Linked DNA regions of Homo sapiens. The protein of the gene in region 4 interacts with the protein of the main gene of each other region in a pairwise test. Each region holds a gene or a part of one and is shown on either strand. Other genes may lie near its edges.

Region 1 (3,500 bases), on a different chromosome or scaffold from region 4:
CCCCTTCTGTAGTTCTTCAAGCCCCACCCCATCAGACTGGACCAAGTCCCCCCGTGCCAGGGGCTCAGGAGCTGCTCCCATCTTCTGCAGATGGCATGGAACTCCAGAAACCCCTGAGACCTGGGGAGACAGCCCCTACCCCTTCCCAATGAGCCCTCGGGGTACCAGGCACATTTTGTGCTCTGGAAATGCCCAAAGACTAGGCAGGGGGTGGGTACCCAGGAGGGAAGCAGGTCAGGCCGACTCTCCCCCAGTGACCCACTCCCCTAAAAGCCACCACTGGCCCCGGGACTGTCAGCAGAGCAAGCTGACATCGCTTCCCCAGAGTCACTTCACCACTCTTGGCATCAGCTAAATTGAAATATATCTAATGTGAGGCCCCAGTGATACAACTCAGAACAGGCACACGTTCCCTCCATATTTCCATATAAATAAGGAAAGCTGGGACGCTGGGAGATACAAATAGATCCTCTCATTTACAGACGGGATGTGTTTATTACCCACCGAGGCCCCGTCTCCTCCCCAGACGCTCTTCGTCTCTCTCTGTCTCTCTCATCCTCCTTCGTCCCCCTTTTCTTGTCCCCATCCCCACCCTTTACCATTGGAAATTGAATGAGCCCCCATCTCTCCAGAAAGCAGAGACCTCCCTGGCACTGAGAAGGGAACTGTGACTGGGTGTTCGTGCAGCTGGAGAAATGCGCACATTTATCTCTCTGTACTCGCTCACCGCAGAAACCAGCTGAGGCCACGGGAGCTCTGGGCTCCGGGCAGCAGAGAAGACAAGGACAGGCCGTGGGAGGCCACACCAGGCTCTTCCTCAGACCTCCGGGCCCCGGTCCCCCATCCATCAAGCCTGAGAGAAGAGCCCCAGGGCCCCTTAGTACCAAGGGCCAGAGCCAGAGCCAGAGCCATCCACAGAGCCAGGTAGCCTTCCCCAGGTTCAATCCCTGGTGGAGGCCTGGGAGGTCTGGCAGGGCCCAGTAGACACATGCAGCTGTGCCATGGACCTTCAGCCTACAGACCCCTCCCAAAAGATAGCCTCCTACCACTACTTTTTTTTTTTTTTTTTTTTTTAAGCCGAGACAGAGTCTTGCTCTGTCACCCAGGCTGGAGTGCAGTGGCGCAATCTCAGTTCACTGCAACCTCCTCCTCCCTGGTTCAAGCAATTCTCCTGCCTCAGCCTCCCGAGGAGCTGAGATGACAGCACGTGCCACCACACCCTGCTAATTTTTGTATTTTTAGTAGAGATGGGGTTTCACCACGCTGGCCAGGCTGGTCTCGAACTCCTGACCTCAGGTGATCCACCTGCCTCAGCCTCCCAAAGTGTTGGGATTACAGGCGTGAGCCACCACACCCAGCCTCCTACCACTGCTTCTTCAAGACAAGTCAGAGGGCAGGAAACAGCCTCACAGCACTATCTGCAGCCACATGGGGAAGGAGGCCTAGGCGAGAAGGGCTGGAAGGGCAGGAAACAGGAGGAGGACCTGGGGTGGGAAGTGGGGCAGAGCTGCCTGGGAGGGGGCAATGCCGGAAAGCCCTCCCCAGAGCCCAGGCCCAGCCCAAATGCAGCAAGAGGGAAAGAAGTCAGATCTCCTCCGGGTCATGATTCCCCATGCAGCCTCCTCTCTTGAATCTTTAAGATGAGTGTGCAGAATACAGAATGAGATGTCAGTCACATTTCATCCCCAAAGTACGCAGTTTATCATGAAGTATAAACAGGCACAGAGGAGAATTTGGAGGCCCCACACATAGACCACAGTCCACAAGAGGCTGAATGACGCCCTCCTCTTCTTTTCGAGAAAAGCCTTCTCCTCCCTCTCCCTTCGCAGCCACAGTCCATGTGGGACCCCACTTCTGTCACCGGTTTGACAGGGGAGGAGAGATTGTTTTTCCCATTTGTACACAGATTGTTTTGTTGACCAATGCAATTTTTTTTTTTTTTTTCTAAATAGCAGGGCCTTAGAGGGTTTCCTTCTCCTGATTCTGCTCTGGGGTTGTCTAGACTCCGCAGATTTCTTTTGGGTAACAAAACGTGCATTATCCAACAATCCAACCTTGGCCCAGGACTTCCAAGATCCCTCCCCAGGCCTGATTCAGCCAAGCAATTTGCCAAGCACCTCCCCGTGAAGCCCTAATCCTTCCCTCAGGCATCTCCTAAGTGGAAATGCTGGTACCTCCTAGGTTTTCTGCAGGGCTGCCCCAGGCACTGCGTGGGGATGTAGTTTGAGGGGCTTCTCTTGCAGGATCAGGATGTTAAACCCACATTGCACACTGCTTTCCCGGCCTGAGTCCCTGCCTTGGGTCTGCCCAAGCAGATTAGCTTGATCCAAGGGTATGAAAGAAATCATGGAGGACAATGCGAGTCGGGATCTAAAGTGAATCAGGGTCAGCTCTCCTGGGTTCTCAGCGGCCCTTTTCTTGTCTGTCTCCTCCTTCTCCCGGACTTCAGTTCTGTATTCCAGGCACTCAGCTTCTGAGGCCTGGGAAATGTGAAAAGACTGGCTTGGATAAACTTGGTCTGAGAACTAATGTTACAACACGTAGAATCTCCACTCCTAGGTATACCCAACAGAAATGCCTACGTATGTTTACCAAAAGACGTGCACTGAAATATTCATAGCAGCACTGTTCGCAAAAGCCCAAAACTGGAAACGACCAAATGCCCACCAATGGTCGGATGGATAAAAATATGGTGGTGTACTCACACAATGGAAGGCTACACAGCAAAAAAAAAAAAAAAAAAAAAAAAAGTGCAAGTGACTACAACCGCATACAAGATAGTGAGTCTCACACATGTACTACTGAGAGAAAAGACACACACAAAAGACTACTCCTCTATTAGTTCATTCTCAACGTTGCTACTAAAGACATACCTGAGACTGGGTAATTTATAGATGAAAAAGGTTGAATTGACTCAGAGTCCAGCATGGCTGGGGAGGCCTCAGGAAACTTACAATCATGGTGGAAGGGGAAGCAAACATGTCCTTCTTCACATGGCAGCAGGAAGGGGAAGTACCGAGCAAAAGGGAAAAAGCCCCTTATAAAACCATCAGATCTTGTGGGAACTCACTGACCATCACAAGAACAGCACCAAGGTAAACCACCCCCATGAATCAATTACCTCCCACAGGGTCTATCCCACAAGAGGTGGAGATTATGGGAACTACGATTCAAGATGAGATTTGGGTGGGGATACAGCCAAACCATATCAACTCCTGAAACGATTCCATGCTCACAAAGTCCAAAAAACAGGCAGAACTCTTCTATGTGATCAGAAGTCAAGTCGTGACTATCCTTGGGTGAGTAATGACTGTGAAGTGGCATGGGGACACTTGGGGACTGATCACGTTCTGGTCCTTGCTCTGGGTTGTTAGTTGCATGGATTGTTCATTTGTGTATATGATACCCCATTAAAAAGTTTAAGACCACGTACACGCACACACACATGCACACACATGCACATGTACACACGAATGCACACACACCTCTAGTCCAATTGT
Region 2 (4,075 bases), on a different chromosome or scaffold from region 4:
AATACTAATGGCTGGCCAAAAGGAAGCATGTACTGGGTCCTCCTTTCAGTGACATGACCTGATGATCTGAGACGAATTATTTTATCTCCCAGTGCCCCAGGTCCTGAAGAGTCAATTCTACTTGCTGCCAGATAATGGCCATGATGCAAATGATATATTAGCTCTGGTAAGGCATTACTCTGGTTACTACTGGCATTGGAAAATAATTACTCTCATTATAGTTTTGTCTGCATCTGGGGATTAACATTCTCCTAAGAGTAGGCCTTTGGCTCTTTCAGGGCAAATGGTCCATACCTGTGTTTTACAAATCACCCCAAATAGGTTGCTTCCAGCTGTAATTCTGGTCCCTATGTGGCAACAATTTCACTTCCAAGCTAAGAGAGTAAGAAAAAGGTCTTCTGGAATTGCTAATATGCACTGCTTGAAGAATGCTTGAGCTTCTCTGCAGCGAGGACTGCGCGGGCCTAACTACTTCTAGTCGGGGTCATCAGGCAAGATCATCACCTGAGTTGCTATGGACTGCAGCCATGCTGTTGTGTCCATTAAGACACCACAGAACTGACTCTCAAAACCTTTAATAAAGTAATTCTAGAAAATCAAAGCAAAGAGAAAAAAGCTGAACTTCTTTTTTTGTTTTTCCGAGACCCGTCACCCAGGCTGGAGTGCAGAGTGGTGCAATCTTGGCTCACTGCAACCTCCACTTCCCAAGTTTATGCGATTCTCCTGCCTCAGCCTCCCGACTAGCTGGGACTACAGGCGTGCACCACCACACCGGGCTAATTTTTGTATTTTTAGTAGACACGGGGTTCCACCATGTTGGACAGGCTGGTCTCAAACTCCTGAACTCAGGTGATCTGCCCTCCTCGGCCTCCCAAAGTGCTGGGATTACACCGTACTTGGCCAAAACCTGAACCTCTATTAACCTGTGGGGTGGCATTTGTTCTAAGTGGGTAAGAAAGGCCATCTAGAATAAAGGAGAAAGAAGAGATCTGGAGTCAACTTCAAATTATAGCTTTGCTATTTAGAAGCTATTTGGACATATTACCTGACCTTTCTGCCTATCAGCATAATACAGGCAGTGAAATGACTGTTGGGAGAGCTTCACAAAGCAATGTACGAACAGCACTACTGCCAGCACATGGCCTCACAGAAAAGCTGAGCATTGTTTATACATCTTGCTTGTGGTACCCACCACATTCCACCTTTAAAGACAGGTGACTGAACGTGTACGTATCTAGTCCCACTTCTAGACTGTAAACTCCTCGGCAGCAGAGCTTTACAGGCATTATAGCATAGTGGTCAACAGCATAGATATAAGAATTCAACCCCAGCTCCAAGTCTTGTTATCTTGGGCGAGGTACTGAACTAAATGTGTCTTCATCAGTAAAATGGAAATAACATCACATATTAACACGTATTCCACGGGACTGTTGAAGATCACTCAAGAAAACACAGCTGAGGCTATGAGTACTTTCCTAGCCCACCGTAAGTGCCTGATAAATGGTAGTGATTATCTTTTCATGTCTTGTGTCCCTTATACCTGCTAACGCAATCTAGCTAATACCTACAGCTTTGAAGGTTTATGAAGCTGAGACACTGCCCCACCCACAGAAATCCAGAAATATCAGTATCAAGATGCCAAGGAGAAGGGTCCCCTACCTCTGGAAAATCTCTTGCAGCGTATCCCGGGTGAAGGCATTGCTGTCCTGGAAGACGTTATTGAGGGCGTGGAGGGCACAAAGCTCCCTGCGCTGTTTCTCATGGTAGATTTGTGGGGGTGCTGCCTGGGGCAGCTCCAATGATTCAGATTTGGCCTTGTCTCCTTTCCATGGCACACAACTCATGTTTTTTGTTTTAGGTTCCAGAGATGGCTATAAACACCCCACTCTTCCCTCTAGAGGAAGAATGTAAGCTTCTCAGTCTTTTCCGGATTCCTGAGGTCCACCTTATTCTCTGGTGTCCATGATTTATGCTTTGTCACTGGGAGAAAAGATTGGAATCAAAAGGAAAAAAATAAAACCCACCTCTTCTCTCTTCTCAATAGAAAAATAACTTTTGGATTACTTTTATTTTGCTACCACTGTCAAAGTGCAGAATTTAAAAAAACACATAAAATGTAAGACCTTGTTTCCGTTTCCCCACCCTTCCCTCCCACCCCCCTCCAAAATCCCCACGATTTTCTTGCTGTTTCCCTCTGCAAATGCCAGGCCTCAAAGCAGGAGGACCGAACACAATCGGTCACATCGCTCCTTTTCTTCCATTTCTTTTGAACCACGACGCCAATGACTCGGGAGACAAGGCCTGGGTGACGGATAAATTTAGCGCACGAGTCGAGTAGCTAGCGCGGGCCGGCAGGCGTGGGACCGCGAGCCGCGCGGGGGCCTCGGGGGCAGCCCTCCATCCCCTCGGGTACGGTGGGGCCCGCAGGGCGCGGCTCCCTCGGAAGGCGCGGATTCTAGCCCTCTGGCCGCGGCCCTGCGGAGGAGGAGACAACTCCGGTCAGCGGCGAGCGGGCGCGGGAAGTGAGCGGCGGGGCCGGCCCCTGCCCGAGGGAAGGTTCCGCGCGGCGAAGGGCTGGCCCGCGAGGGGTGGGGCCGGACAGTCAGCCTCGCGCTCCCGGGCCCGCGCCCACCCGGCTCGCAGCCCCTACACAAACCTCCCCGCCCGTCACGTGAGCGCAGGCCCAGACGCCCTCCCGCCGCGCCCCCGGCCGCAGACCCCAGGGCCGCCGGGACTGCTCGCCGCTGGCGGTCCCCTCACCGCAGCCGGCCGCCACCTGGAGTGCGCGCCGCCAACTGGGCCGTGCGGGCGGGCGCGCGCACCTGAGCCCGACGTCAGCGGCCCCCGCCCGGCGCGTGCTCCGGAAACGCCCTCCCGCGCCGTCCTCACTCCTCCCAGCCGTGGCGTCACGCCTGACGTAAGTCTGACGTCATCGGCACCGGCCTGGGAGCCGCAGACGCCGGGCGTGTAGGGGCGCAGTTCAACGGTTGGGGTGTTGCAAAGGCCGTGGGTGTGGGGCTGCGGGCTGCGCACCTCGGCGGCGGCCGGCAGGGTTGGGGTCCAGCCGCTCCGCTCGGCGCGGCCCCTGGCGGGGCGGCCTGAGGGAGTCCTACCTGGACGCCAGCCTGCCCTTCTCCCGGGCGTGGGCGTTGTTTCGGGGCGGCAGCCAGGCCAGCGGCTGCAGTCCGCGGCTTTCAGCACCCCTCCCTTCTCTGTGCCGGGCTTTTCGGCCGAACGTTCTCGCTCCTTCTGCGTTGACTGTTTTATGTGTGGTTAACGCGCGGCTCACCAGGGGGGATTTTGAAGCACCTGATTCGGTCGGGCGCAAATTGCCTTGGTTAGTGGGCCCGACCGTGCCGCACTGTCCAGGGAGCGTCAAGGGTAGGTGTCTCGCTGGGAGTCACATTTCAAGTGGAAAGGAGAATCCTGTTGCAGTTCCTTGGTGTCGCATTTCGGTTCACTACACACAAGCCACTGCCTTCTTGCCTGGGGGCTCCCCGCTCTTCTCACGGTGGCTTTCCTCTCTGCAGAGACCTCTGCGCGAGGTATACCTAAGCGCATTGTGTGCGTCTTCGGGAAAAGGCGAAAACTACTCGCAGTCCCACGTGGATTTCATTTTTTCCCCTTTACCTACTCTTAGGGTGCGTGGTAGGCATCATTATCCACCTTAGCTGCCCTTCTTTTGGGTTTTCTGTAAAACTGGAAAAACGAGAAGAAACTGTTGCACTTCAAATTTAGTTGTTTTGTTTTGTTTTTTGGAGACGGAGTTTCGCTCTTGTTGCCCAGACTGGAGTGCAATGGCATGATCTCCGCTCACCGCAACGTCCGCCTCCCGGGTTCAAGCAATTCTCCTGCCTCAGCCTCCCGAGTAGCTGGGATTGCAGGCATGCGCCACCACGCCCGGCTAATTTTGTGTGTTTAGTAGAGGGGTTTCTTCATGTTGGTCAGGCTGGTCTCGAACTCCCGACCTCAGGTGATCCACCCGCCTTGGCCTCCCAAGGTGTTGGGATTACAGAAGTGAGCCACCGTGCCCGGCCTTTTTTTTTTTTTTTTTTTTTAAGATGGAGTTTAACTT
Region 3 (3,465 bases), on a different chromosome or scaffold from region 4:
TCTCCTACTTCTTGTTAGTGTGGCATAGGGTACCCTGGCACACCCAGGGCAAGAAAGACAATCATGCCCCATGCCACCCCCAGGTTTCATGGGGCCAGAGGTAGAAATGGGGCTGAGGCCGGGCGCGGTGGCTCACGCCTGTAATCCCAGCACTTTGGGAGGCTGAAGTGGGCGGATCACAAGGTCAGGAGATCGAGACCATCCTGGCTAACACGGTGAAACACCTTCTCTACTAAAAATACAAAAAATAATTAGCCGAGCATGGTGGCGGGCACCTGTACTCCCAGCTACTCAGGAGGCTGAGGCAGGAGAATGGCATGAACCTGGGAGGCGGAGCTTGCAGTGAGCAGAGATCGCCTCACTGCACTCCAGCCTGGGCAACAGAGCGAGACCCCGTCTCAAAAAAAAGAAAAAAGAAAAAAAAGAAATGGGACTGAATACAGTCCTCTGGGTGTATTACACAAGTTGTTTCTGTTTGCCTCAGTGTCTTCTGGGACTGAGTTCTGTTTGATCATTTTATAATTAGCCACTAAGAGTCTTGATCTGTAACTTTCAGTACAAGGGTAGTGAGCACTCAAACTGTTATCTAATCATGTTAGGGCTTAAGTGGAAAATACAGATAAAAATCAGTACGTATAGCATGATTTCATAAGAACACATACAAAACTCTCTCTCTACATGTATATAGAACTACACACACACACACACACACAGACACATACTCACACACACACTCACATAAAGTCAAACACCAAAATGCTAAGGGTTATATGAGATTATAGGTATTTTTAAAATAGTCCATATGTTTACTTATCTGTATTTTGAGTCTTCTACAATGAACTTGTATAACTTATGTAACAAAAAGAAGTAACTGCATAAACAAAATTCAACATACAAAAGTGATATAGTGATAATTACATCTGCATCACAGTTATTATTGTAAAGATTAAATGAAATATGCCTTTAACATGCTTAGCACCTTCCACAGCACATTGCAAAAAAAAAAAAAAGAAAAGACAAAACCTTAACATCCTATGTGCCAAGTATTATTGTAAATATTTTCTTGCATTAACTGATTTAAGCCTCACAACAACCCTATGATGTAGGCTATTTTTATTGTCCCAGTTTTACAGATGAGGAAACTGAGGCACCGAGAAGTAAGTTATCCACATGTTAGAGCCAAGCTTTAAACCTCGATACTCCAGTTCCAGAGTCTGTTCTTAGGCACTTTGCTTTACTACCTCTTGACGGATCATAACTGATCAATTAGTGTGAGCTGCTGTTGTTATTTTTATTAAGGATTTACACAATAGAATTAGTGAATAGCAACAAGGTAGGAACCACAGTAGCTCTGCAGTGAGGACAGAGGAGAGCCCTAATATGTAGCATTTTCCAATTTCCATGGTGTAAATATCCTCATCATGACTATGATTGATTTCAAGCTATCAGCGTGCAGTACTAACTGGGGATCGGGAAGAGATGTACACGATCAGCTCTTGCTAGCTGATGTGATCCTGATTATGGACACCACTGAGAGGTTGTTCTGTATCTGATCAACACGGCCCCACCCAGCTGACTGCCTTTCTGCTAGTGCTAGCTGTCCAGAGGCTAGAGTGACTTCCCAGCCTGGAGGAGCCAGGCGCTGGGCAAAAGACTTTCACACAACACCAGCCTGGGCAGAGCCAGGCCAGGGCTCTCCTGCCATCATTGTTTGATTGAGCTTTCAGGCTGTCTCTGTGCAATTGCAAGAGGTAGCACCTGTCCCATGAACCAGTAGGGCTGGGTTCGAAAGCTGACAGCCATCTCTAAAATGCAGATTTTAAGTGGTATCTTAGTTATATCCCATTTTTTAATCTATATAAATATAAAATATAATTTTTATATAATTTAATTATAGTTATATACACAATTTAATTACAGTAATAATAATGAGAGTGGTAATAATTAAGCAGGATTTATAATGTACGAAGCACAGTGCTAAGTAAAATATCATAATCTCATCTAATCCTCCAATAGCCCTATATGATGCAGGCATTATTATTGTTATCATTATTATTATCTCCATTTTGCAGATGAGGAAACTGAGGTACAGAAGGGTTAAGGAACCTACACAAGGATCAATAATAAGAGGAGGAGCTGGTATTTCAATACGAGAGAAGATTTGGAAGGGCAGGCAGCACGCATTCATTGTTAACAGCTGTGTACTTGCGGGGCAGTGTGATTCGCATGGGTGGACTCACACTTTTTACTTCATGCATTTGTGTAAAGTTTATTTTCACAATGGCTAGTATTAACTTTGGCTATTTCAAAAGCTAGAAATCAAAATATTGCTTCTCAAGCTGTGTCTGGATTCTGAGGTCTGAGCTCCCTCCCACCCTATCCCTTTTCTCAATTCCAGACTGAGAAGAACAACAAATAGAATTCTGGCTTCCTCCTGCTGTAGCAGTAACATTTTAGGATCGGTGAATGTATGCGGTTTTGAACCCGATCAAGTCAAAGTTCGAGTGAAGGATGGAAAGGTATGTGTGTCGGCTGAGCGGGAGAACAGGTACGACTGCCTTGGATCGAAAAAGTACAGCTACATGAACATCTGCAAAGAGTTCAGCTTGCCGCCCTGTGTGGATGAGAAGGATGTAACATACTCCTATGGGCTCGGCAGCTGTGTCAAGATCGAGTCTCCTTGCTACCCTTGCACTTCTCCTTGCAGCCCCTGCAGCCCCTGCAGCCCCTGCAACCCCTGCAGCCCCTGCAACCCGTGCAGCCCATATGATCCTTGCAACCCGTGTTATCCCTGTGGAAGCCGATTTTCCTGTAGGAAGATGATTTTGTAAAGTGCGCATAGGAACCCATTACTTAATAGAAGTCAGTTACTCCAGCCAGGCAGCTCTCCCAATGTTTCTCCTCTCCTTCCCATGGCCCCTGTTGTTGAAGTACGTAGGAAACTGAATACATAACTGCAATCTGCTGGTGTTGTGTGAAAGTCTTTTGGTTAAACCCACTGCAGGAGCCCTGCAGAGTTAGTGAACATTGGAATAATTAGTGGATGGCAATAGAAGGACGATATGGTGAGATCCACCCTCCCATTCCCTCCTCCATACTCAACTACCTCCAAACTCCAGGAGAAGACACTCTTCTGGTGGGCATCCCCAGACATTGTTTTCCAGATGATCCAGTGAAATGGCCTAGCCCAGAAACCAAATGGTCAAAGCAGAAACAGATTAGTTAGAGTTGAAGGAAACACTTTTTCAAAGCTACTGCAGTAGGGAGTCTGGAAAAGAGACTCCTCGAGCACAGTGGGATTGTGGTTTTACTGGACAATGATCAGGATACAAAAACTACGGGGTGGTAGGTGGGACGAGGGGCATGTTTGCTGGCCAAGGCGGGGTGGCCATACAGCTTGTCATTTTTCAACATTCTTGTGGTTTGGGGGATTGGCCAGCTCTGGTTAGTATATGGATGCCAAAC
Region 4 (3,500 bases):
CTCATGAGGTTCAGGGTGGGACCTCCCACCCATTCAGGGCATGACAGATGATTTTGCAGGTTGTGCAGTGCTCAGCCTGTGCAACCACACATGGCAGTCCTGCCCTACCACCCCAACATCAGAGTGGCAGCCATCTCTTCTCATCCCTAGTGCATCCCCAGAAAAGGAAGCCTATTTAATAGATAATCTCAAATCCCTCCCACTGCCATGTCTAGCAGGCAGGTGTCCTGTGCCACTCACCTTGCTGCGGTACCAGGACTCGGCCTCAGCCCGGCTACGGGTGACAATGTCATCGTACTGTGCCTTGATCTCGGCAATGATGCAGTCCATGTTCAGGTCCCGGCTGTTGTCCAGCTTGACAACCACGGAGGTGTCTGAGATGTGGGACTGGAGAACGCGGATCTCCTGCAGGAGGTGAGGGCAGTGACTTTAGTTGAGAACACAGCCCCACCCACCATGTCCTGACTCCACCTCCTCAGGCTTTCTCTGGTCCCCAACCCTGCCCCCTCACACAGCCTCAGGGACTGCAACCTCTACCCACATCCTGTCCAACACTCCCACCCCCATCTCTCCTCTCTGCTGGCTGCCAGGTCTCTGCCTGGCCCCTGAGCCCGCACCTCCTCATACAGCCGCCTCAGGAAGTCGATCTCCTGGATCAGGGCCTCCACATTGGCCTCCAGGTCTGATTTGCGGAGGTAGGCGCAGTCCACATCCTGGAAAGGTGGGGAGTGTTGGAGCTCAAGGACCCTGGTGATCCAGCCTCTAGATTCCTCTCTCTTCCCACCCATTCCATGAAGCCTGGGGAAAGGAGTCCCCAGTGTCTCATTCCCATGCCCTCTCCTTCCCTTCTGGCCCTTCCCGGGGTGACCTGGCATCCTCTGCCATTCTGAGGACAAACCCTGTTTGTCTTGGGCACGGCTCACCAGCCTTTCACTGCTCCTTACCCTCTTATCTCTCCTTTCTCCCCTCTCCTGCTCCAGGAAGCCTGCCCAGACTGACCCCCCAGCTCTCACACCCTGACCCTTTCCTGTCCCCCAGCAGTGCTCCAAAAGCCCAAGGGCTACTCCTGGTTCTTCTCCATCCCCCCTTAGAACCTGGGATTGTGTCTCTGCCTCAAGGTCAGACTCCCCAAAATGCTAGACAGACTGCACTGTCTCTCAGCAGAGACATTGTATCTGCTATGGCTCCAGGGGCCTCAGCAATAGACCACAACCTCTGGAACAGAGCAGGACACACAGAGGACAGTGCAGCCATCCCCTTGCCCAAGGTAGGTGCTGGTAGATATTCCCAAGTCATTGCCCTTTGTCAAGGCCCTGGATGCTCAATACAAAGGCCTGCATCTGGGCAGTCCTAGCCTGCTGTGGAAAGGTCATTGTGCCCCACGCTGAGGTTGAGACCCCCTGTGTGTCCCCAGGAAGAATCTGTCATTCTGAGATCCCACAGATCTGTGCTTCTCAATCCTGTGTCACTTGCCTTCTTCAGAGCCACAAACTCGTTCTCAGCTGTTGCTCTCAGAGAAACCTCCTCCTCATACCTGAGACAGAGCAGAGGGAAGAGAGGGGAGGTCAGGGCAGGGCAGGTCTCTGCAGAGCCACCATCACATCACACTTCATCACAGCCATGGGGACAGTACTAGAAACACCTCCACACAGCCCCGGCCTGGCAGCCTAGCTTAGTGCTTTCTAGTTGGATGTGGGATGTGTCTGGGATTCTCTATCCACTTTGAACTGGGGATGGAGAGTGCTCATCTGGGACCTCCCAGTCCTGTTCCCAAAGGGGCTCTGAGGTCCCCCAGGAGGCAAATAGGACTCAGCCCCCAGCCCCATCCTGGGAGTGGACAGCGTGGACTCTCAGGGCCTGTAGCCCTAGCCTCCCCTCACTGGTATCAATCCCAGCTCAGGTATGGGGCCTCCTGGACCCGCAGACCCTCAGGACTTAGAACCTAAGGCAGTGCGACACCCAGAGCCCAAGACCTGTCACTCATGAGAGACCCTGGGCTCACATCTGACAGGTGCTACAAGTATAGGGGCTGAGGGTCAGGAGAGAAGGCCTGGACCCTGCAGAGGCTTCCTCCCCACCCAGCGCAGGGGAGAGCTGCTGGGTGATGTGGTTCAGGGAGAGAAGGCTGAAGTGGGACAGAGACAGGTCATGGGAGTCACAGCCCTCCTCTTACACAGGTGTCTGGGCAAAGATTCCACAAAGGAAAAGACCCCGCCACCCTCGGTCAATCTAGTGGTCATGGCCACTCACCCTACCTGGGAGTTCTTATTGTCTAATCCAGTGTATTTAACCTAAACCCCATTCCTGTGCCCAGCATCCCTCTTGCCCGCACTCACTTCTTCTTGTAGCCCTCCAGCACCTCCTGCACGTGGTTAAGCTCTGAGGCCAGCCTCCCGCTGTCGGCCTCCACGCACTCGGCCTCCCGCCGCAGAGTCTCGATGTAGCCCTCAAACAGGGGCTCCAGGTTGCTCTGGCAACACTCGCGGTTCTGGTAGAACTGCAGCTTTGTCTCCAGCAGTTTGTTCTGCTGCTCCAGGAAGCGCACCTGCCATTCGGTGTGGGAAGGTGGGGCAGATGGTGTCTGGTGCCCCAAAGCCAGCTCTGGGGGCTCGCAGGGGAGGTGCTTTAATGGGAACCCCCAAATCTGGAGCTTATCTGAGATTGAGTAGAGGTGGGCAGTGGGAGACAGACAATTTCTGGATTTCCTGGTCATGATCTGTGTCTAGATTTCCCACTCAGGAGTGGAGCAAGGGCTGGGTGGTGTCAGTGCCTGCTCCCTGGGGAGTTGAGTGACCCCCCCCCCACCCCCCACCCAAGCAGATGAACAGAAGTAGAGGCTCAGTCCCTCACTATGAAACTAGGTGATCAGCAACCCACACAGGCAGAGTACTCAGGTTCAGATCACAGATGAGGTTTCTGGGGATGGTGCCAGGAAGAGGGTGTCACAGGCCATCTGGAAGGGAGCTCAGCTGTCCCAGCCCTTCCCCTGTGTCATCTGGAAGTCAGTGCACCCTACTCTCTCACCCTGGGGCTGCCCAAACCCCTCTGAGTTCAGCAGCAGTGGTCACATGCCCCCCTCCCCCAACTCCCTGATGTCTAGCTTGTGCCCCAGAGCAGCCTGGCCACACTTTTCCTTCACAAGCTCCCTCTATCTGAACTGTCAGCTGAGTCTGCATCTTGAGTGCCTGTGTGTGTGTGTCTGTGCATGTGTCTGTCTGTCTGTGTGTCTGTGTGCCTCGCCCATCAGACTGGGATCTCAGGCAGGCAGAGGTCTTTGTGCCTCTGACTCCATCCTTAGTGCCCGGCCCTGGCTGTGTAGGTGGTGGGGGTTCAGGAAGGGTGTGATCCAGGACACCCACCTTGTCGATGAAGGCCGCGAACCTGCTGTTGAGGGACTTGATCTGCTCCTTCTCCTCCTGCTTCACGCACTGCGCGTTGGGGTCGATCTCCAGGTTGAGGGGCGTGAGGAGGCTCTCGTTGACCGACACGGTGGTGATGCA

Evidence for each region. Proteins that work in one complex are often made in the same cells at the same time.
Region 1: the proteins of KRT86 (region 4) and MGAT5B interact in a two-hybrid assay, tested with the Homo sapiens proteins (one large-scale study listed by BioGRID).
Region 2: the proteins of KRT86 (region 4) and JOSD1 interact in a two-hybrid assay, tested with the Homo sapiens proteins (one large-scale study listed by BioGRID and IntAct).
Region 3: the proteins of KRT86 (region 4) and ODF1 interact in a two-hybrid assay, tested with the Homo sapiens proteins (one large-scale study listed by BioGRID and IntAct).

The regions. Positions count from the first base shown.
Region 1 is NC_000017.11:76,874,904-76,878,403, reverse strand, and holds part of MGAT5B (alpha-1,6-mannosylglycoprotein 6-beta-N-acetylglucosaminyltransferase B), read right to left. Parts: intron 1-3,500. UniProt on the Homo sapiens protein: Glycosyltransferase that acts on alpha-linked mannose of N-glycans and O-mannosyl glycans.
Region 2 is NC_000022.11:38,698,144-38,702,218, forward strand, and holds the start of JOSD1 (josephin-1), read right to left. Parts: upstream 2,801-4,075; 5' UTR 2,657-2,800; exon of another isoform or gene 2,476-2,656; 5' UTR 1,845-2,475; coding exon 1,660-1,844; intron 1-1,659.
Region 3 is NC_000008.11:102,558,054-102,561,518, forward strand, and holds the end of ODF1 (outer dense fiber protein 1), read left to right. Parts: intron 1-2,398; coding exon 2,399-2,831; 3' UTR 2,832-2,965; downstream 2,966-3,465.
Region 4 is NC_000012.12:52,302,145-52,305,644, reverse strand, and holds part of KRT86 (keratin, type II cuticular Hb6), read right to left. Parts: coding exon 3,360-3,500; intron 2,546-3,359; coding exon 2,337-2,545; intron 1,535-2,336; coding exon 1,474-1,534; intron 714-1,473; coding exon 618-713; intron 406-617; coding exon 241-405; intron 1-240.